Linked DNA regions of Homo sapiens: region 1 is linked to region 2. A link means that fine-mapping ties the variant in region 2 to the expression of a gene that starts in the linked region. Tissue or cell type: lung. Region 2 holds a variant in brackets; the other region holds the start of a gene. All regions are shown on one strand. Distances are from middle to middle.

Region 1 (10,506 bases), 38 kb after region 2:
TAGCACATTCAATCTGTGTTTTCACATGCATTCTTTTACTTCCTCAGTGTATGTGAGAAAAAAGGCTATAAGGAGAATCTTGTAGTTAAATTGTGATAAAGATTCTGATGTTACTACCAATTATTTCAATTTATTCTGTTAATAGCTTTTATTTAGAACTTTAATAAAGGATGGCATTCCTCATTCTTGCAGCACTGGTACATCAGGAAACCAAGTTACAAAAAGCCCTCTTTGATAAGTACTTGGGTTATAAACACTTATTTTTCACTCAGTAGCATCCTCCTTATGTTTAATATTCTTTCAACAAAGGATGAACCATCCTGAAATTCAGTGTCATATTTACCACTTGGTATTTACTCAGTAGGGTCTATGTGTACTACAATGTGCTAGGCACTATGGGAGAACCAAGGTTAGTGTCATATGGTCCTTACTCTCAAGGAGTTTACAATATAGTTAGATTAGGCATTTACATGAGATAAGGAAGGAATTATGCAGACAGAACTGTAAGTATTAAAAATAAAAAGATCGCCGGGCACAGTGGCTCACACCTATAATCCCAGCACTTTGGGAGGCTGAGGCGGGAGGATCACCTGAGGTCAGGAGATCAAGACCATCCTGGCTAACATGGTGAAATCCCATCTCTACTAAAAATACAAAAAAATTAGCCGGGCATGGTGGTACACGCCTGTAATCCCAGCTACTCGGGAGGCTGAGGCACAAGAATCGCTTGAACCCAGGAGGCGGAGGTTGCTGTGAGCGGAGATCATGCCATTGCACTCTTGGGCGACAGAGCAAGACCCTGTCTCAAAAAAAAAAAAAAAAAAAAAAGATCATTTTCATATGGGGTGGTCAGAAAATGCTTCACAGCTAAGCAGAATTTGAGTTGAACCCTTGAGTACAGGATTTTGATAGAATTTGCTAGGAAGAGAGCAAGCACACGTGAACTTACATATAAAGGGCCTTGTTGAAAAAACTTTTTATTCTGAAAAATTTAAACATGTAAAAGTCAACAGAATAATAAACCTCCATGTACTCATCACCCAGCTCCAGTAATGATCAACTCATTGCCAATAATTTACATCTTATTATACGAAAATCCTAAGGGAGCCCATCTGCATATGCCTTTATATTCTTCACCGAGTCCATCCTCAGACAAATCTTTAGTGGCACAACAGTCTCCACAGTTTGGTTTTTCCAAAGGTCACATACAAACAAAGTGCAAATCTGTTTAAAAAAAAAAACAGCAGGACCAGGCACTGTTGCTCACGCCTATAATCCCAGCACTTCGGGAGGCCAAAGCAGGCAGATCACTTGGGCTGAGTTCAAGACCAGCACCGGCAACATGGCGAAACACAATACAAAAAATGCAATAATCAGCCGGGCGTGGTGGGGCACACCTGTAGTTCCAGCTACTCAGGAGGCTGAGGTGGGAGGATCGCTTAAGCCCTGGAGGCACTGCTGTGATCTTGCCACTGCACTCCAGCCTGCATGATAAAGTGAGACCCTGTCTCAAGGAAAAAAAAAAAAAAAAGAGAGATCAATTGCCGGGTGTGGTGGCTCACGCCTGTAATCCCAGCACTTTGGGAGGCCAATCCCAGGCAGACTGCTTGAGGTCAGGAGTTCAAGACCAGCCTGGGCAACATGGCAAAACCCTGTCTCTAGTAAAAATACAAAATAAATAAATAAATAAACTAGCAGACGTGGTTGTGCACGTCTGTGGTCCCAGCCACCTGCAGGGCTGAGGCAGGAGAATTGTCTGAACCTGGGAGGCAGACGCTGCAGTGAGCTTAGATCGGGCCACTGCATTCCAGCCTGGGCGAAAGAGTGAGACCCTGTCTCACAAAAAAAAAAAAAAAAAAAGTAATCAACTCTTGATTGTTTGCACAAGCCAAGGGAAGAGTGACAAAGATAACTGCAAAATGACAGATAATCCAAAAATCAGTCTACATAGACTACTGGAATACCTTTTCCATATTTATATTTCAATAAGAATGAGTAAAATGATGGGAGAATTCATGTCAAACAAAATAAAGCATCACAAGTGAAGTACTTTAAACATACCACTTGGCCTCCCAAGCCTGTTTCTTCCTCTGTGAAACAGGGAAATATCACCTACCTCAGAAACTTGTGAGAATTAAATGTGTATATTTAATGCCATGTGTATAGTTCCTTATTTTATTATATTATTAGTCAGTTGAATCAGGAACAACTATTAAATAGGAAGCTGTGGCCGGGCACGGTGGTTCATGCCTGCAATCCCAGCACTTTGGGAAGCCGAGGTGGGCAGATCACTGGGTCAGGAGTTTGAGACCAGCCTGGCCAACATGGTGAAACCCCATCTCTACTAAAAATACAAAAAAAAGCCGGGCATGGTGGCATGTGGCTGTAGTCCCAGCTACTCGGGAGGCTGAGGCATAAGAATTGCTTGCACCCGGGAAGCGGAGGCTGCAGTGAGCCGAGATGGCGCCACTGCACTGCAGCCTGGGTGACAGAGCGAGACTCCGTCCTAAAAAAAAAAAAAAAAAAAAAGGAAACTGCCCACTTTCCCCAGTCTCCCCTTATATGCCACCCTCTCTCCAGATAATGTAAAAATTTTCTTCATCTCAAAACCTGCCAAAGGTTGAGGGGCTAAGCTCCCCGATTTCAAGGAGTTTCTTTGCCTGTAAAGCAAACAGAGCTGACATTGAAGGAAGTATTTTAGTAGAATAAATTTGTAAATTGTCAAACTTCACAAAGTAATCCCTCCTTAATAGAGCCAACTAATGTCAGAGAGAGGTCGTGTGTGTCCAACCTACCTAGTAAAACATTTTCATTTTCCCCATTTCTTGACCACTGAGTTTTCTATTCTTTCAACCATCCAGGGCCTCTGTACAGCACAGTAAAAACAGCAAAGCAGCCATTAGGACTCTCAGGGCCACAGCCATTAGGGCCAGAGTATGAGAAGCTCAAGATGAGTAACCACAAGGCATGACAGAAACACCTTTACCTTCATTTCTTACTCTGTCCAGAAGGAAGCTGAAATTGTAATCTTGTGTTCCCTACGACCTGCTACTGAAAGGCAGCTGTCACGCAAAACTATGAAATTAGCTTAAACCTCTTTTTAGAGCACGTGTTCACCAAGATTTTAATTCTTCCTTTAGGGTTACTTTGTCTCTCAGTTACCTTCTTCTTGAGATTGCACATACATCAATGAAGTTCTCTTAAGAATTATCATCTTCAATCCCCAACTCCCTTTCTCTTATGTGAAGACTCAATGAGTTACTGACTTATAACCTCTAACACTATAAATAATCCACTCAAAGTCTTCTACCTAAAACCATTCCTTATTTTCTGATATTACCCATTTCTTAGATGTTTCTCTAGGATAATTATAATTAATGTAGTAAGATCTGTGGCACTTCACAGTTTGCCAAGTGCTTTCTAAATGTACTCACTTAATCCTTACAGGCTGTGGAAAAGGTAATTCCCTCTATTTTATAGGTAAGGAAAAAGGACCGAAGAACTCACTACCATGTCGTATCAACAAAGCAAGTTGGTGGCAAACCGGACCTCCGAAATAGGTCTTCCAACTCCACACGGCATGCTCGTCCCATTCTATTATGCTCTTTTCTAAGAAGGGAATGTCTACAGTTCTGTCCCAAACCACATTTGCTTCAAGAGTAAACCATCTTCAAACCATTTCTCTAAATTGCAATCAGGTCCCCCACTCCTACGATCATGCCATTTCTTGCTTCCTCACTCTCCAGCTATGACTTCCTTCTCACTACCCGATTTCCACTCTTCATGGATACTGCCATCATTCCTTCAACCCGTCCTGCAAATATCCCACCTCTACATGCTAAAGGGAGACCCCTCATGTTCCTTCCCCCAAACCCTGGCACTCCCTTCTCCGGATATGTAGGTTGTCACCCCATAAACTACACAGTAGCTTCTCGCTTCTCGGCCCTTAACGAGCTACTTACTAACTTTAAAAGCCCCACAGAAATGAACTTAACTTGCAGGTCCTCCACCTCCACACTTGGCCCTGGGCGCCATTCCTCTGAAAATAATAGTACCAACCCTTACAAAGACTCTGCCCATGCCCCACTGTCACCAACGAATTCCTTTTCCAGAAGGAAAAGGAAACAGGTTCTTCAGGCTCCTCTTCCAACCTCTTCACCAGTGACTCCCCTCCAAGGTTCGTGGACTCTACCCCCGCAGTTTTCCTCCCCTCACTCCCGGGCCTCTGCCCACCTCACCAACTCTCCCTGCGCTCCCTGTCCCAGAGCCAAGCGGCGGCCGCTCCACTCTCCCAACTTAGAAGTTCTGCCTCTATCACCTGTTCTCACTAGAGCTTCCTCTCAGCCCAGCGGCCCACCTTTGCCCTGGCCTGCCTCTCTCCACCCCTTCGAGTCCTCCTGCCCAGGAAACACCCCCACGAGTCAGTTCCGGGGTGCCTGTCGGATTCAACTTCCCATCCGTGGGATTCCCACCCCCGGGGTCATGCTCCCCTTCTCCATCACCTGCTCCGCCCATAGCCAGATGACATCCGCCGCTGCCTCCTCCTCCATTCCCCTTCTCGGACGCCAGGTCCCCGGCCACTCACCGCCCTCCGTGCGCGCCAGCCGCCCCCTCCGGTGGGGAAGAGGGGGGCGTGCACCCCAACCCGCGCCCCCCCCCCACGACACGCACCTGTTCTTCCTCCTCTTCCCCTCGGCGGGCCGCGCCGGCGCCCCGACCCCCACCCTTGCCGCCTCCCGGCCTCCCGGAGCCCCGCACTCACCACGAGTAGGTCTGCTCCGCCATGGCGCTGCCTCTCGTGGGCTCCGCTGCAGGCTGTGGCCGGGCCCGGCGGCGGCGGGCTCGCTCGGGCCGTAGCTGAAGGCGCGGCCGGGGTCCGGTGCTTGCTTGCTTGCTCGCTCGCTGGCTCGCTGGCTGCACGGCGGGCCGGGAAGGCGGCTGGCGGGGAGAGGCCGGGCTCCGAAGCGGCCCCGCTCCCTGGGCCCCGGGGCGGGGCGGGCTCCGCTCTCGGCCTCCCTCACCCGCGGCGGCGGCGGCGGCTCCGCTGCAGCTCCAAACCCAACATGGCGGCGGCGGCGGCGCGGAGAACAAGGGGGCCCTGGGGCGGGCGAACGGCAAGACGGGCCCGCGCTCACTGCGCGCGGGGCCGCGGGAGCGCCGCGCTCGGGCGGCGGCGGCGGCGGCCGGGGGACATGGCCGGCGGGCGGAGGCGGCGGCGACTGAGGGGGGCGCTAGGCGATGAGGCGAGGCCACTCGATCACACCCGCCGAGGGGAGGAGGGGCGGGGGCGGGGGCGAGCCTTGGCCCCGCGCGGGTCACGTGCCCAAAACACGCTCACGTGATGCGCGCCCCGCCCCTCGAGCCGGGCCCATGCGCAGAGACGTCGGCTCCTGGGTTCTAGGCGGCTGCTGCTCGCACAGCCAGAGCAGTTGGGCCGCCTCCCGCTGCCTGGTGCCGCCCCCCTCCCCACGCGGAGATGTCGCCTCGGGTACCCTCTTCCGCCCCTCTCCGAGGGGCTGCTGCACCAGCCAATCGGGAACCCCGATGCGCGTCTGTTGGCTGCCACTCAGCTGTCAACCGTCAGTCAACAGTCTGCTGGCCACGGGCCCCCCAACTGTCAGTCAACCTGTCAGTCAACAGGCAGAGGGCTGCATTCCTTCGTTCGTATGTTCCTTGGTTCATTCATTCAGGTAGCAAATATTCCAGGCAGCCAACCTTTATTGCGCCCAGGCCCGGCACCAAGTCGAATACCCCACGCTTGCCTTCACAGAATCAATCAACAGATATTTGTTGGGTGCCAACCATGTGTCAACTCACTCTGCCTTCCTAGAGCTTACATTCTAAAGGAAGAGACATAGTCCAAGCCCACAAATAAGATAATTTCAGATGCTGCTAAGTTTTACAAAAACACATTTTGTAACACAAGGTGAGGGGACAGAGAGTGAGCAGAGGTGTGGGTTACTTTAGATAGGGTGGTCAAGGAAGGCCTCGCTTAGGAGGTGACATTTGAGCTGATATTGAATGATGACAGAGAGCTGGCCTTGCAAAGATCCACAGGAAAAGAGTTCCTGGCAGAGGGAACAGCAAGGGCAGAAGGCTCAGGAAACCGTCCATTTGGAGGTCTGGAAACCGGCACAGAAATAAACACGGTAGAGCTAGACCAGAGACCAACAAAGTGAATCTGGAGCTTAGATGGAGAGAGAAGAGAGAGATTAATTGAGGCCCCAGGTACTGCGGAATGCTTCCCCAGGAGTGGATGAGGCCGTCTGAAAGGGTGAGAGGCTTATCAAAGAAAAGTCATTCTTTTGGCCGGGCGCGGTGGCTCACGCCTGTAGTCCCAGCACTTTGGGAGGCCGAGGTGGGTGGATCATGAGGTCAGGAGATCGGGACCATCCTGGTTAACACGGTGAAACCCTGTCTCTACTAAAAATACAAAAAATTAGCCGGGCGTGGTGGTGGACGCCTGTAATCCCAGCTACTCAGGAGGTTGAGGCAGGAGAATGGCGTGAACCCCGGAGGCAGAGCTTGCAGTGAGCCGAGATTGCGCCACTGCACTCCAGCCTGGGCAACAGCGAGACTCTGTCTCAAAAAAAAAAAAAGAAAAAGAAAAAGAAAAAGAAAAAAAAAAAAGAAAAGGCATTCTAGAAAGAAAGAATGGCATGAAGTAAGGCCCAATTCCTGGTGAGCTTGAATCCGAGAGTGGGATGGGTGATTTGTGCTGGAGTGTTGAGAAAATATACTGAGAAGGTGCACTGAGGCCAGACTTTGAGGGCCCAGCTAAGCCTCCTTGCCAGTTACTGTGTTCATGAATAAAAATGATTAACCAGTGCAGCTTCAGAATTTAGAAACATGCCTGGGCAACAGATACACTAACCCTCCTGGACACCCCTCCACCCCCACCCTTCACCCCCCTGTTTCTCTGCAGAAGGCAAAACTCACACACCTGAAACCAACGTACTCAAGCTTCTCTGCAGCTTGCCCAACTTTAGGCCAGAATTTAGCTCTGCTCCAGTTTCCCAGGGCCTGCCCAGGCTTACAGGGAACACCACACCCTGAATCTATCTCCAAATGGATCAGTTGGCCATTGCCCATACATCTGCCGCTTGCCTGTTCCCCAAGGGAAACCCTTTAAAGAGAAAGCCAAGTACACTTTCCCTTCAGAAGCAAAGCTCTCCTTCCTTATTCCCCCACTGCCAGGTGCCAGGACCAGTTAGGTTCCAAGTGTTTCCTCCAAAGCTCTATCAGAGAGCCCTGGGAAAAGGCTCACTGATGAGATTGAGGTCCAGGCCGGGCGCGATGGCTCACGCCTGTAATCCCAGCACTTTGGGAGGCCAAGGCAGGTGGATCATGAGGTCAAGAGGTCGTGACTATCCTGGCCAACATGGTGAAACCCCATCTCTACTAAAAATACAAACATTCGCTGGACGTGGTGACCCATGCCTATAGTCCCAGCTACTTGGGAGGCCTGAGGCAGTAGAATCGCTTGAACCGGGGAGTGGAGGTTGCAGTGGACCTAGATCACGCCACTGCACTCCAGCCTGGCGACAGAGTGAGACTCCGTCTCAAAAAAAAAAAAAAAAAAAAAAGATCGAGGTCCAGGGGAGGGTTTGAGGCAGGGCAACAAGAAAATATCAAATCACCAGGGACCCTTAGTCTCACTATTCACAAGAAGACACTGGCCTGCAAAGATCTGTCCAGCCATAAACCCACCAGATGCAGGGATATTAAGGGGAGATGAGAAGGCAAAGGGGCTAAATTCTTTTTTAAAAAATTTTTTTAATTTAATTACTTTTTTTGTTTGTTTTTGAGACAGAGTCTTGCTCTGTCACTCAGGCTGGAGTGCAGTGGCGTGATCTCAGCTCACTGCAACCTCTGCCTCCCAGGTTCAAGCAATTCTGCCTCAGCCTCCCAAGTAGCGGGGATTACAGGCGTGCGCTACCACATCCAGCTAATTTTTTATTTTTAGTAGAGATGGGGTTTCACCATGTTGGCTAAACTCCTCAAACCCCTGGCTTCAAATGATCTGCCCACCTCGGCCTCCCAAAGTGCTGGGATTACAGGCATGAGCCACCGCGTCCGGCCAGGGGCTAAATTCTTGACATTCATTTAGCTCTCACAACCTTGCCAAGTGCTTTTACATAAAGCCAACTGTGTCCTTGAACGTGACGCAGTCATTCTGAGTTTCAAAGGGGCACAGAGTGAGGCTTTAGGTCCCATGGGAAAGGCCAGAAGCCGTTGGAAGTGGCTTTGGGTGATGCAGAAGCTTTTTCTTTGGAGAGCTAAGAACAAAACAGACCAGACATGTCACTTTTGAAACGAAAATGCCACACTGAGCCTCTGGGCGATTCACTTGGGCTTTGGTTCCCAGTGAGTCATAGAAGTCAAAGCCAAGTGGAAAGTTGGTGTTGGATGAATGAAACGGGAGCTGCTAGAGTAGGAAAGTCAAGGCCTTCCCAGAAGCAAAGGGACCATTCTTTTCAGTGGGAAAAATCTGGTGGAAGAAAGGAGGGAGAAGGGGTTTGGTGAAGGTATGGTGAATGAGGAGAGGTTTTCTTCTCTCTATCTGAACCAGAGACCTCCGAAGTGTTTCTTGAGGAAATGTGGCTGCAGACCCTAGAAGAAGCTACACAGCACTTGCCAGGGCTGGGATGATGTCCAGGCCATGGAAACACCGTGTACCTGGTCCCAGGAAGATGAAGTGTGGGCCCAGAGACTAATGGCTTGAGCATCTCAGGCTAAGGTTGCCGAGAAGTAGACAGCACCTCTAGATCCTAGTCAACATCTCTACAGGCTTGAAGTCTCCCCAGAGGGCAAGGTTGGAATAAATCTGAAGCCTGTGGCTTGCCTGGGAGCTGCCCAGACTGTGGCATCTGGGGAGTGACTTTTTAATTTTAATTTTATTTTGAGACAGAGTCTTGCTCTGTCACACGGCTGGAGTGCAGTGGCGCAATCTCAGCTCACTGAAACCTCCACCTCCTGGGTTCAAGCCATTCTACTGACTCAGCCTCCCAAGCAGCTCGGATTACAGGCACCCACCACCATGCCCAGCTATTTTTCGTATTTTTAGTAGAGACGGGGTTTCACCATGTTGGCCAGGATGGTCTCGAACTCCTGAGCTCAGGCAATCTGCCCACCTTGGTCTCCCAAAGTGCTAGGATTATAGGCGTCAGCCACCGCACCCGACTGGGAGTGACTTTTAGTCTCCCTGCCAGCAGCACTCAGCTCCAAGCTATAGCAGCCCCAGGTGTATCTGTGACACCTTTGGGCCTCAGCCAGGGAGTCAGGTGTGCTTCACAAGAGACTCAGGCATTAGGCTCCCCCAGGAGGGGTGCTTTGTCTCTCTGCACCCCACTGCAGGTGAGAGCGCTACAGCTTGTGCAATATTTGCTGAAAGAAGCCATGGAGGCTGGGTGCGGTGGCTCATGCCTGTAATCCCAGCACACTGGGAGGCCTAGGCGGGCAGATCACCTGAGGTCGGGAGTTCAAGACCAGCCTGGCCAACATGGAGAAACCCCATCCCTACTAAAAATACAAAAATTAGCCGGGTGGTAGTGGCACATGCCTGCAATCCCAGCTACTCGGGAGGCTGAGGCAGGAGAATCGCTTGAACCCGGGAGGCGGAGGTTGCGGTGAGCCGAGATCGTGCCACTGCACTCCAGCCTGAGCAACAAGAGCGAAACTCCGAAACGCCGTCTCAAAAAAAAAAAAAGAAAGAAAGAGGCCATGCAGGTGCCTCTAATTATCACCACAGTAATTATAGGATAGCTTCTTCCACCAAGTGTGTTCAAAAGAGACTTGGGGAGTCTCCCCCAGGATGGGTCCTCTGCTTTAGGCACAGACTCCAGGAAGCTGGCATTACAAGGTCTGTCTGGGCTGCTTAAGCATTGTTTCTGAGAACATCAAGGCTTAGGTCTGACCTGGCTCTACCAGTCCCTCCAGGCCATTTCTCCCCTCTGTCATCCACCCCTCGCCCCCACACACATGCATGTGCACTTTGTTTATATTCCATAGTGACCTGCTTGTAGCTTCCCCACGGGCTGTGTTCTTTTTTGCTTCCAATCCTCTGATCAAGTCCAGGAGGTTTCCCATTGGGTCTTTCTTTTTTTTTTTTTTTTTAGACAAAGTATCACTCTGTCGCCGAGGCTGGTGTGCAGTGGCGCCATCTCAGCTCACTGCAACTTTCGCCTCCTGGGTTCAAGTGATTCTCCTGCTTCAGCCTCCCGAGTAGCTGGGATTACAGTTGCCCACCACTACCATGCCCAGCTAATTTTTTTTTGTATTTTTAGTGGAGACGACTTTGGCCATGTTGGCCAGGCTGGTCTCAAACTCCTGATCTCAAGTGATCCACCCATCTTTGCCTCCCAAAGCGCTGGAATTACAGGTGTGGGCCGCAGCGCCCGGCCTCCCATTGCCTCTTAACTGCTGCTTATAGTTTTCGGGGCTTGACTGCAATGTCACATCCTCCAGGAAATCTCACTTGACCAAAACCTAGGCTGGGTTAGATAC
Region 2 (10,506 bases):
TATCTGAGGTTGACTAAATCATGAATGTGGAACCCACAGAGACAGGGCCAACTGTTCTCAAATCAACTCTGCCATTCTAGCATGAAAGCAGCCATAGATGATATGTAAACAAATGGGCATGGCTGTGTTACAATAAAGCTTTATTTACAAAAACAGGTTGTAGGTCAGATTTGGCTTGCAGGCCATAGTTTGCTTATTCTTAAATGAGAACATGCTAGAAAAACAGAAAAAGGAAGGAGACAAAGTACAAAAATTCTCCAAAAGGACAGATCCTTGAAAAGGGTGTTGGCAATAAATAACAGGAAGGGAAAAAGAGTAAGATTTTTTTTTATCAGTGTGGTCTATATTTCATCTAGCTACTCCAGCAGCCACATTTCTGGTCATATTTTAAACAGGCTGTGGTAGATCCTTGCATTACTACTGTCAACTACAATGCCCTGAAGACATACCACACAGGTCAGATGTCTTCATTGAAACGCATCCTAGCAGCGGACTGAGTCCTGGTTTATCTGGCAGGGGAGTACGCTGACTGATATTACTCAGTATACAATCACCTCTCTGGCAGATTTAAAAATCATATGCCTGAAATTGTAACATATAAAAACCAATCCAATCTTCTAACAGGTTATCTTATTCCTTGTTACTTGTATTATGAAATGATTTCTGATACCCAAGATTTCTGAGATACCAAAAGGAGAGAACAGAAGGGCTGTGAGGGAGTTAGGGGTAAGAGAGGGACTGGGAACTCAAAGGATTGGGAATATCACTTTGGGCTGTAGTGCTCAACATCTTCATGTCTTCAATTCTAGAATTTTGAGCAACATACTTGAAGGTATTAAGATTCCAAAACAATAGTAAATAAGTGAACATGAATTACAATGTAGGCAGTACTACAGAAAATAATGTCCACAGTGTCCAGAGAAGTAGTTTTCAAACTTTTTAGTTCAGGACTCTTGTTGAGGACCCCAAAGGGCATTTGTTTATATAGATTATACTTCCTGATATTTACCATATTAGACATTGAAACTGTGAATATGAAAAATATTTATTCATTTTAAAATAAACTCATTATACATTAACATAAATTACACATATTTCTATGATCTGTTTCTACTCTTAACACTTCTGACACCAAATGTGTGGGTTTTTTCCATGTCAATAACCAATTTTCCAATAATAATTAGATGTTCATCAATTCAATTCTGACACTATTACCCAAAGGTGTCACAGGCCCTGCATGTTAAGGGCTAGGTCTCATGAGATTGCCTCTATTTCAGGTGCCGGTATCAAGTCCAGGTCACCCGTACTTCTGACTCATCAGCTACAAAGTTAGGGGTTTCCACAATCCCTTTCTCAGGTTTGACCATTTGCTAGGATGGCTCACTGAACTCAGGAAAACAATTTACTTACTATTGTTGGTTTATTATAAAGGATACAACTCAGGAGCAGAAAAATAAAAGACATGCACAGGGCAAGGAATGGAGGGCTGAGAGGAGTATGCAAAGTTTCCATGCCTTCGGTGGGTGCACTGTCCTCCCAGCACCAGTTCACAAGTCCAGAAGCTCTCAGAACTCAATTTTTAAGGATTTTTTGGAGGTTCCATTACACAGGCATGATTGATTAAATCACTGGCCTTTCCTGGCTGGGCTCAATCTCCAACCCCTCTCCCCTCTGCAGAGGTTGAGGGAAGGGGTTATATTTCCAACCCTCTATTGGTTCTTCTAGCAACCAGTCATCATCCAGAAGCTATTTAGGAGCCCACTAAGACTCAGCTCATTAGCATAAACTCAGGTAGGGTTGAAAGGGACTTCTCATGAATAACAAAAGATGCTCCTCTCTCCTCTATCACGAAATTCTAAGGGCTTTATTATAAAAGCTATTATGCCAGGAACCTGGGATAAAGACCAAATATATATTTATCACAACATCTAGGCCAGGCATGGTGGCACACACCTGTAATCCCAGCACTCTGGGAGGCTGAGGTGGGTGGATCACCTGAGGTCAGGAGTTTGAGACCAGCCTGGCCAACATGGTGAAACCCTATCTTTACTAAAAATACAAAAATTAGCTGGGTGTGGTGGTGCATGCCTATAATCCCGGCTACTCCAGAGGCTAAGCCAGAAGAATCACTTGAACCCAGGAGGCAGAGGTTGCAGTGAGCTGAGATCACACCACTGCACCCCAGCCTGGGTGACAGAGCGAGACTCCATCTCAAAAGAAAAAAAAAAAAAGTTTTAATGAAAAATAACTCTTTTGAAAGTAAAAATTAGTGAGAGGAATGGTACCGTTTTACATTTCTGCAAATATCTTTAATGTCTGGCTTAATCGAAGTCAGCAGTATTCTCGTATCTGCTTCGGCATTTAATCTGTACTATGATATATAGTTTGGTTCAAGTACATGAAGAAAATTCAACTGCATGCATATCTATAGTTTAAAATGTGAGTGGTATTTTAAGAGCCTTTCAGGTAATCGTAGATATTATTCTTCAATACTGAAATGAAATTCTACAGATGGTAGGTTTTTTAATTCTTTTTGAAATGTATTCTCGTTTTATTGCTCAGGCTGGAGTGATCACAGCTGACTGTAGCCTCGAACTCCTGGGCTGAAGCTATCCTCCTGCCTCAACCTCCCAAGTAGCTAGGCCCACAGGGTCAAGTCACCACATTTAGCTTTTTTTTTTTTTTTTCTTGTAGCTTTCTTTTTCTTTTCTTTTCTTTTTTTCTTGCAGAGATGGAGCCTTGCTTGCTGCCCAGGCTGGTTTTGAAATCCTGGCCTCCAGCAATCCTCCCACCTTGGCCTCCCAAGGTGCTGAGATCCCGGGCATGAGCTACCACACCCAGCCTAGATGGTAGTTTCCTAAAGGTTAGCTCCAATGTAAAATCTAAAACCCTATCAATGAACTTTCTGTACTCTGTTACATTAAAATCCATGTCTGCCTTCACTCTGAATGGATCCTTACCCATGCATAATTCTGTACATCATGCACTGGTAAGTTAATATTTGTTTCCTCAGTTGTGAGCTCTTCAAAATGCTTATGTATTTCATTATCCAATACTAAAAATTCCATCTATTACCACTGATCTCATCACAGAAGTCTTTAAATACTGGGAAGTTGTAGGCCAGGCCCAGTGGCTCATGCCTGTGATCCCAGCACTTTGGGAGGCCGAGCTAGGTGGATCACCTGAGGTCAGGAGTTCAAGACCAGCCTGGCCAACATGGTGAAACTCCATCTCTACTAAAAATATAAAAATCAGCCGGGTGTGGTGGCACATGCCTGTAATCCCAGCTACTTGGGAGGCTGAGGCAGGAGAACTGCTTGAACCTGGGAGTCGGAGGCTGCAGCGAGCCGAGATCATGCCATTGCACTCCAGCCCAGACAAGAACGAAACCCCATCTCAAAAAACAAAAACAAAAACAAAACCTGGGAAGTCATCAAGCCCAAAAATCTTATCACTGGCAACAAATATTATCAGTCCTTTCATTTTTTACAAAATCTGCCAAATACTCAAAGCTGAATAACCATAGTTTATTAGTTATTCTTAAAAGTAAAAATGTCCATGAAAAAAGATGGTTAGGTCAGCATGTAACTCAACCCTACAGGTGCTTTTCCTTAAAACAACCACAGTACTTCAACACGCAGCAGAAGTGCCTTGTGTGACCTTCCCATTACATCACACAAAGCATTAAAAAGATGTGCAATCTAGTGTCAAGAGTTAACCAAAGGAGTATTTTTTTACGCATTCTTAAGTGAAACTGGGTTAAAAAAATAACAAAACAAAACTGTAGAGTGTGTGGAATACAATGTCTATGAGCACACTTTGGTGCCACTGCCTTGATTCACGCTTAGGCACCAGCAGTACCATCAATACAAATGTTAACACAGAGAGAAAGATAACTTCTCAGAAATACTATATAAAGGTTTGACCTTGAGGATCCCATGAGAGATTTTCAGGGATTTCCAGGGAAATAGGGGCCACACTTTGAGAAGTGCTAATCTAGAGAAACATCAACAGTTACCCAGTTGATCACTTTGTGGCCCTTCAAGATTGGTTACTGTTTTAATATAACTGCTGACTGCTCTGACACCCTCCCACATGAAAATGCCACTGTTTCATGTCTTACCATATCTGTTACCTCACGCTCATAGCGAACTGTACACTGCTCTACAATGCACTGCACAATCAGCACAGCTCAGCATCTGATCTACAACGGCCAGTACAGTGTGGTTTAAGAGCACAGGCTCTAAAGTCAGTTTGCTTGGGTTCCAATCCTGGGTCTACCACTTACTGGCTGTAAGGCCTTGTACAGATTATTTATCCTTATTTGCAAAATGAGTACAATAGTATCTATCTATGAAAGCTGTGAGGATTCAACAACCTATTCAGTGTTTGGCATGGGTCCTTACACACAGTTAAGTGCTCACAACCTGTTACCAATATTCTAAATATTACTGTATTTATTAGTATATATTATACTACTATAATCCTGGGATAGTAGATGCATTCTAAGTTGTAGCAATGAAATTTTATACAGTAGTCAAGACTAGGCAGGATCCCCAGGGAGGAGCCTACGCTCTACAGCAGTGTTTCCCAAGCTAGCCTGGAAGAATCACCTAAGGCAGGGGTCTCCAACCCCCAGGCCACAGACTGCCACCAGTTAGTGGCCTGTTAGAAACTGGGCCGTACTGTAGGAGGAGACAGGCAGGCAAGTGAGCAAAATCATCTGTACTTACAGCTGCTCCCCATCGCTCACATTAACGCCTGAGTTCTACCTCCTGTCAGATCAGCAGTGGCATTAGATTCTCATAGGAGTGAGAACCCTATTGTGAACTGTGCATGCGAGGGATCTAGGTTGTGTGCTCCTTATGAGAATCTAATGCCC[G/A]ATGATCTGTCACTGATTCCCATCACACTCAGGTGGGACTGCCTAGTTGCAGGAAAACAAGCTCAGGGCTCCCACTGATTCTCCATTATGGTGAGTTGTATAATTATATTTCATTATATATTACAGTGTAATAACAGAAATAAAATGCAACATAAAGTAATGTGCTTGAATCATCCCCAAAACATCCTCCCCCTCCTCCCCATCCATAGAAAAACTGTCTTCCACAAAACCAGTCCCTGGTGCCAAAAACGTTGGAGGCCTGTGACCTAAGGTACCTCCGCCAAATCTAGATTCCTGGGTTCCACCCTAGACTATACATCATAAACTTAAGGGAAAGAGCCTGGGAATCCGTGTAACAACACATTAGGAAATTCCTATTACGCAAGGTTGGGACATATACCTCTAGAGAGAACATTATATTTGAGGAATTTAGAACTATTAAAAGATAGTCAACATCAAAAGTCATTTTCTGAATTAACTGAAATAGTAAGGCATAATTTACCTTGAAAAGACACCTCCACACATGGCAAAGTTTATCCTGAAAAAGGCATGTTCAAAAAAAGGAAAGAATTTAAAACGGAGAAATAATGTATTTCTTCTATTCTAAGACACAATGGATTGTAAAATAATAGCATACATTTCTCAAAACAGTTACATACCACTTTCCTTTTCAGAATCTGATAAAAGTTTGAACTGAAACTTTCTTAACATTCAAAGTCTAGTGATTTTTCTGAACTTTTGGCCATCTCCAGTTATGCAATAGTATCAAACATGTCACTTCTCAAAGTCAGAATTCTGTTCTTTTTGACATCTTTGGGACTGACAGCATAATTCTGAGGCAAATAAAAGAACATCTGAGAATCCTCTGAATTTTGTCTTTAAACTCAGTTTCATCTTTCCTCAAATAGATGTCCCTAGAAATTAAGCAGTTTCTCTTAAAAATAAGGAACGTTTTTTAAAACATTAGTGCTTGAGTGATAATCCATCCTAAGTCATGAGTCAGTCATAGGTAACCTCCATTATCTCTCAAACTCTACAATGTACTCCTAAGATTTAGCAATTTCTATTGCTTTTAACTGTATTATTTATCTTGGAACAGGCTATTTCCTACATATAAAATAATCCTTGTAGCACACTCTTTTTGAGAAAGATACAGAAAATAATTACATATCTAAATGTAACTTAAAATTCAGCCATGTGTAATGTTGTCAGTGCAAATAACTTTAATCTGATGATAAATGGTTGAAAAGACACCTCCATGCATGGCAAAGTTTATATATATGCAGGCAATGACATCTGCGACAGCACTTGGTGAATTTCTTTTGACATTAAGAACTACAAAGGACCATCAAAAATATTTAATGGTGTAGCTGGGCGCGGTGGCTCACGCCTGTAATCCCAGCACTTTGGAAGGCCGAGGTGGGTGGATCACAAGGTCAGGAGATCGAGACCATCCTGGCTAACATGGTGAAACTTTGTCTCCACTAAAATACAAAAAACTAGCTGGGTGTGATGGTACGTGCCTGTAGTCCCAGCTACTTGAGAGGCTGAGGCAGAGGAATCGCTTGAACCCGGGAGGCGGAGGTTGCAGGGAGCCAAGATCACTCCAGCCTGGCTACAGAGCGAGACTCTGTCTTAAAAATGTATATATATATATACATACTTAATGGTGCTGAGAAGAAGTTTATCTTAGAGTTGAACAACTATGGTATTAGACAATTCATGTATTAAAAAAAAATTTTTTTTTGAGACAGAGTCTCGCTCTGTTGTCCAGGCTAAAGTGCAGAGAGGCATGATCTCGGCTCACCGCAACCTCCACCTCCCGGGTTCAAGTGATTCTCCTGCCTCAGCCTCCCGAGTAGCTGGGATTACAGGCACCTGCCACCACACCCAGCTAAATTTGTATCTTTTGTAGAGACGGGGTTTCACCATGTTGGCCAGGCTGGTCTCGAACTCCTAACCTCAAGTGAACCGCATGCCTTGGCCTCCCAAAATGCTGGGATTACAGGCATGGGCCACGGCACCCAGCCTATGTATAAAAATTATAGTTCAGCCCAGGCAACACAGTGAGACCTCATCTTTACAAAAAATAAATTAAGCATGGTGGTGTGTACCTATAATCCCAGCCATTCAGGAGGATGAGGCAGAAGGATCCCTTAAGCCTGGGAGGTCATGGGTGCAGTGAGCCATGATCATGCCACTGCACTCCAGCCTGGGTGACGGAGCAAGACCCTGTCACTGCAAAATAAAAAAAAAAAATGTTAGGGAAAAAATGGTATCTGATAAAGTGGAGTACAGAGCAAATTCAGTAATTGAGGACAACAAGGTTAATACAAAAGCAATACAGGATATGTGGCACTGCTTTTCAAAGTGTAGTCCACGGACCACCAGTATCACCCAATCACTTGTCAAGTGGTCAACAGATAGATGGTGTAGTAATTTCTTTTTTCTTTTTTTTTGTTTTTGTTTTATTTGTATTTATTTATTTTGAGACGGATTCTCACTCTGTCACTAGAGTGCAGTGGCACAATCTTGACTCACTGAAACCTCCACCTCCTGGGTTCAAGCGATTCTCCTGCCTCAGCCTCCCAAGTAGCTGGGACTACAGGCGCATGCCACCATGCCCAGCTAATTTTTGTATTTTTAGTAGAGACGGGGTTTCACCAAGTTGGCTAGGATGGTCTCAATCTCTTGACCTCGTCATCCACCCACCTCGGCCTCCCAAAGTGCTGAGATTACAGGGGTAAGCCACCATGCCCGGCCAATGGTGTGGTAATTTCTAAGGAAAATCAATAAAATAATATTTTCATATACATCTGAAGTGTAATATTAATAACTTTTCACAGAAATACTGAAGTAATCTTAAAGGCTGTGGAGGTGCCATAGCGACTGCTATAATTCAGTCAATTCACTGGCTCCCAAGTTTACCACACCTAACATCTGTTCATAATGAAAAATTTTAAGTCTCTTCATTATATTGAAATTATATTAATAGTCTACATAACTTAAAAAATTACAATGTCCTAACTATAATATGGGGAATAAAGAAAAGGAAGCTGATTCATAATAAAACACTATTTAATATATTAAAACTCGAGCACCAATACACTAGGAAATAACATGATATAATAAAATGCTTGCATCAATTTGAAACATCACCATGAATGTGACAGCAACAAATGCAGACTGAATCAGGTGTGTCGAATGGTGACTACGATACCATGAGGAGTACTGCTGTAGGTGATGCATTCTACCAAAATGGCAAACTCTTGGTAAAGCCTTAAATGAAAAAACATTACTCACTCCTTGATTTACACAACAGTGCCATTCATAGAAAATGTAGTTTATCATGTAAAAAATGATTTGTGTTTATATGTAAAATATTTTAGACTTAATTAAAGGAGCTTCAAACACCATATGAGACAGAATAGTTATTCGCTGTAGCACTTTCCTGCACACTGCAAGACATCTAGCAGACCTAAACCCTGTCCATTAAATGCCTGTAACGACCTCTACTATGGTGCCAAACAAAAATGTTCTCATGAATTTCAAAAATGCACACCAGAGAATGGTATTACCACAGCTGAGAACTACTGAGCTAAACGGGTATATATGACTAGGTTGGATATTTTAAAAATCCTTTGCTTGCTACTATTTACTTCTTATGTTAGCATTTTCGCTACTACACAGTATGACTTTGTAGCTGCAATTCACCATAATGGATCAACAGAAAAGTAGTTATGAAAATGGAAACTACTACATCTAAGCATACTACAAATATATGTGATTAAACATGACTCAAGTACAAACAAGAATGAGAACATATATGTTCTGGAACAAACAAATTTCAAATGTGATGATTTCAAATACACAGCTGAGAATCCAAAAATAGGAATATCTGAAAACTGGATTTCACTGGACCAGAAACTACTCACACTAGCATGTTGTCCAAAATGAAAATTTGTCAGTGACATAAAGCCATTGAATCTTTCATACTGTTTTCAACAAATGTAACCAAAAATGTTTAGCTTACTGTAAAGGATGCAGACCGTAAAAGAAACGTTCAGTTTTAAATTATATTGTCAACATGGAAAAAAGAACACATCTTCAGATTCAGAATAAAAGCAAAGTAATAAAGAAAAAAAAGGGCCAAGTGCAGTGGCTCATGCCTGTAATCCCAGCACTTTGGGAGGCTGAGGCGGGTGGATCACCTGAGGTCAGGAGTTTGAGACCAGCCTGACCAACATGGAGAAACCCCATCTCTACTAAAAATACAAAATTAGCTGGTCGTGGTGGCGCATGCCTGTAATCCCAGCTACTCGGGAGGCTGAGGCAGGAGAATCACTTGAACCCGGGAGGCAGAGGTCACGGTAAGCAGAGATTGAGCACTCCAGCCTGGGCAACAAGGGTGAAACTCGGTCTCAGAAAAAAAGAAAGAAAAAAGATACAAAGATAAATGCAAAAATCAAACTGGGAAGAACAGAAAGCAGAGTCTTGAGAGATGTCTGTACAGCAATGTTCACAGCAGCATTATTCACAATAGCCAAAGGGTGGAAGCAACCCATGCCCAGTGATGAAAGAATGGGTAAGAAAAATGTGGCCTATCTATACATTCAAATATTACTCAGCTTTAAAAAAAAAAGTTAATTCTTAAATTCTGATACATGCTACAACAGGGATGAACCCTGAAGACATGATAAGTGAAGTATGCCAGTCACAAAAGGACAAATAAAGGATTCCATTTATGTGACCTAGCTAGAGCAGTCAAATTCATAGACAGTGGAATGGTGGCTGCCAGGGGCTCAGTGAGAGGAAAATGAAGGTTGCTGTTTAATAAGTACAGAGTTTCAGTTTAAGAAGATGAACTTTGGGAGGCGGAGGCGGGCAGATTGCCTCAGCTCAGGAGTTCAAGACCAGCCTAGGCAACATGGTGAAACCTTGTCTCTACTAAAACACAAAAAAAAACAGCCGGGCATGGCGCCAGGCACCTATAGTCCCAGTTATTCGGGAGGCTGAGACAGGAGAATCGCTTGAACCCAGGAGGCAGAAGTTGCAGTGAGCTGAGATCATGCCACTGCACTCCAGCCTGGGCGACAGAGTGAGACTCCGTCTCCAAAAAAAAAAAAAAAAAAAGAAAAAGTTCTGGAGGTAAACAGTGATGATGACTGCACAACAATGTGAATACACATAATACCACATGACAGTACATTTAAAAACGATTAAAATGGTAAATTTTATGTTATATATACATTTTACCACAGTTTTTTAAAAAGTAAAAAGAAAAAAAGCTGGCAAAGTAGAAAGCAGAATTGACATAAAATCTGTTGACAAATGAAAGTGATAAATCACTGAAAGTACAATCATCCCTTGGTATCCTGGTATCCACGGGGGATTGATTCCAGGATCCCCCTTGGATAACAAAATTCACATATGCTAAAGTCCTTTATATAAAATGGCCAGGTGCAGTGGCTCACAGCTGTAATTCCAGCATTTTGGGAGGCTGAGATGAGTGGATCATTTGAGGTCAGGAGTTCGAGACCAGCCCGGCCAACGTGGTGAAACCCTGTCTCTACTAAAAATACAAAAATTAGCTGGGTGTGGTGGTGCACGCCTGTAATCCCACC

Evidence for each region. PIP is the estimated chance that this variant, and not a neighbour inherited with it, causes the effect.
Region 1: SPPL3 starts here. The variant in region 2 is fine-mapped to the expression of SPPL3 in lung (GTEx, PIP 0.91).

What each region holds. Positions count from the first base shown.
Region 1 is chr12:120,899,083-120,909,588 of GRCh38, forward strand. SPPL3 (signal peptide peptidase like 3) reads right to left here and starts at 5,276. Exons shown (of 11, transcript NM_139015.5): 1 at 4,763-5,276. The coding sequence starts at 4,785. It overlaps XLOC_009911 (a long non-coding RNA gene), which reads left to right and starts at 5,613. Exons shown (of 2, transcript NR_131215.1): 1 at 5,613-5,690; 2 at 8,573-8,992. RefSeq lists silencers at 4,626-4,675, 4,816-5,035, 5,116-5,475.
Region 2 is chr12:120,861,135-120,871,640 of GRCh38, forward strand. The region is part of intron 1 of SPPL3 (signal peptide peptidase like 3); the gene reads right to left. Among named protein-coding and RNA genes, the nearest start is that of SPPL3, 38 kb to the right of the region's middle. The variant G/A (reference allele first, on the strand shown) is at 4,883.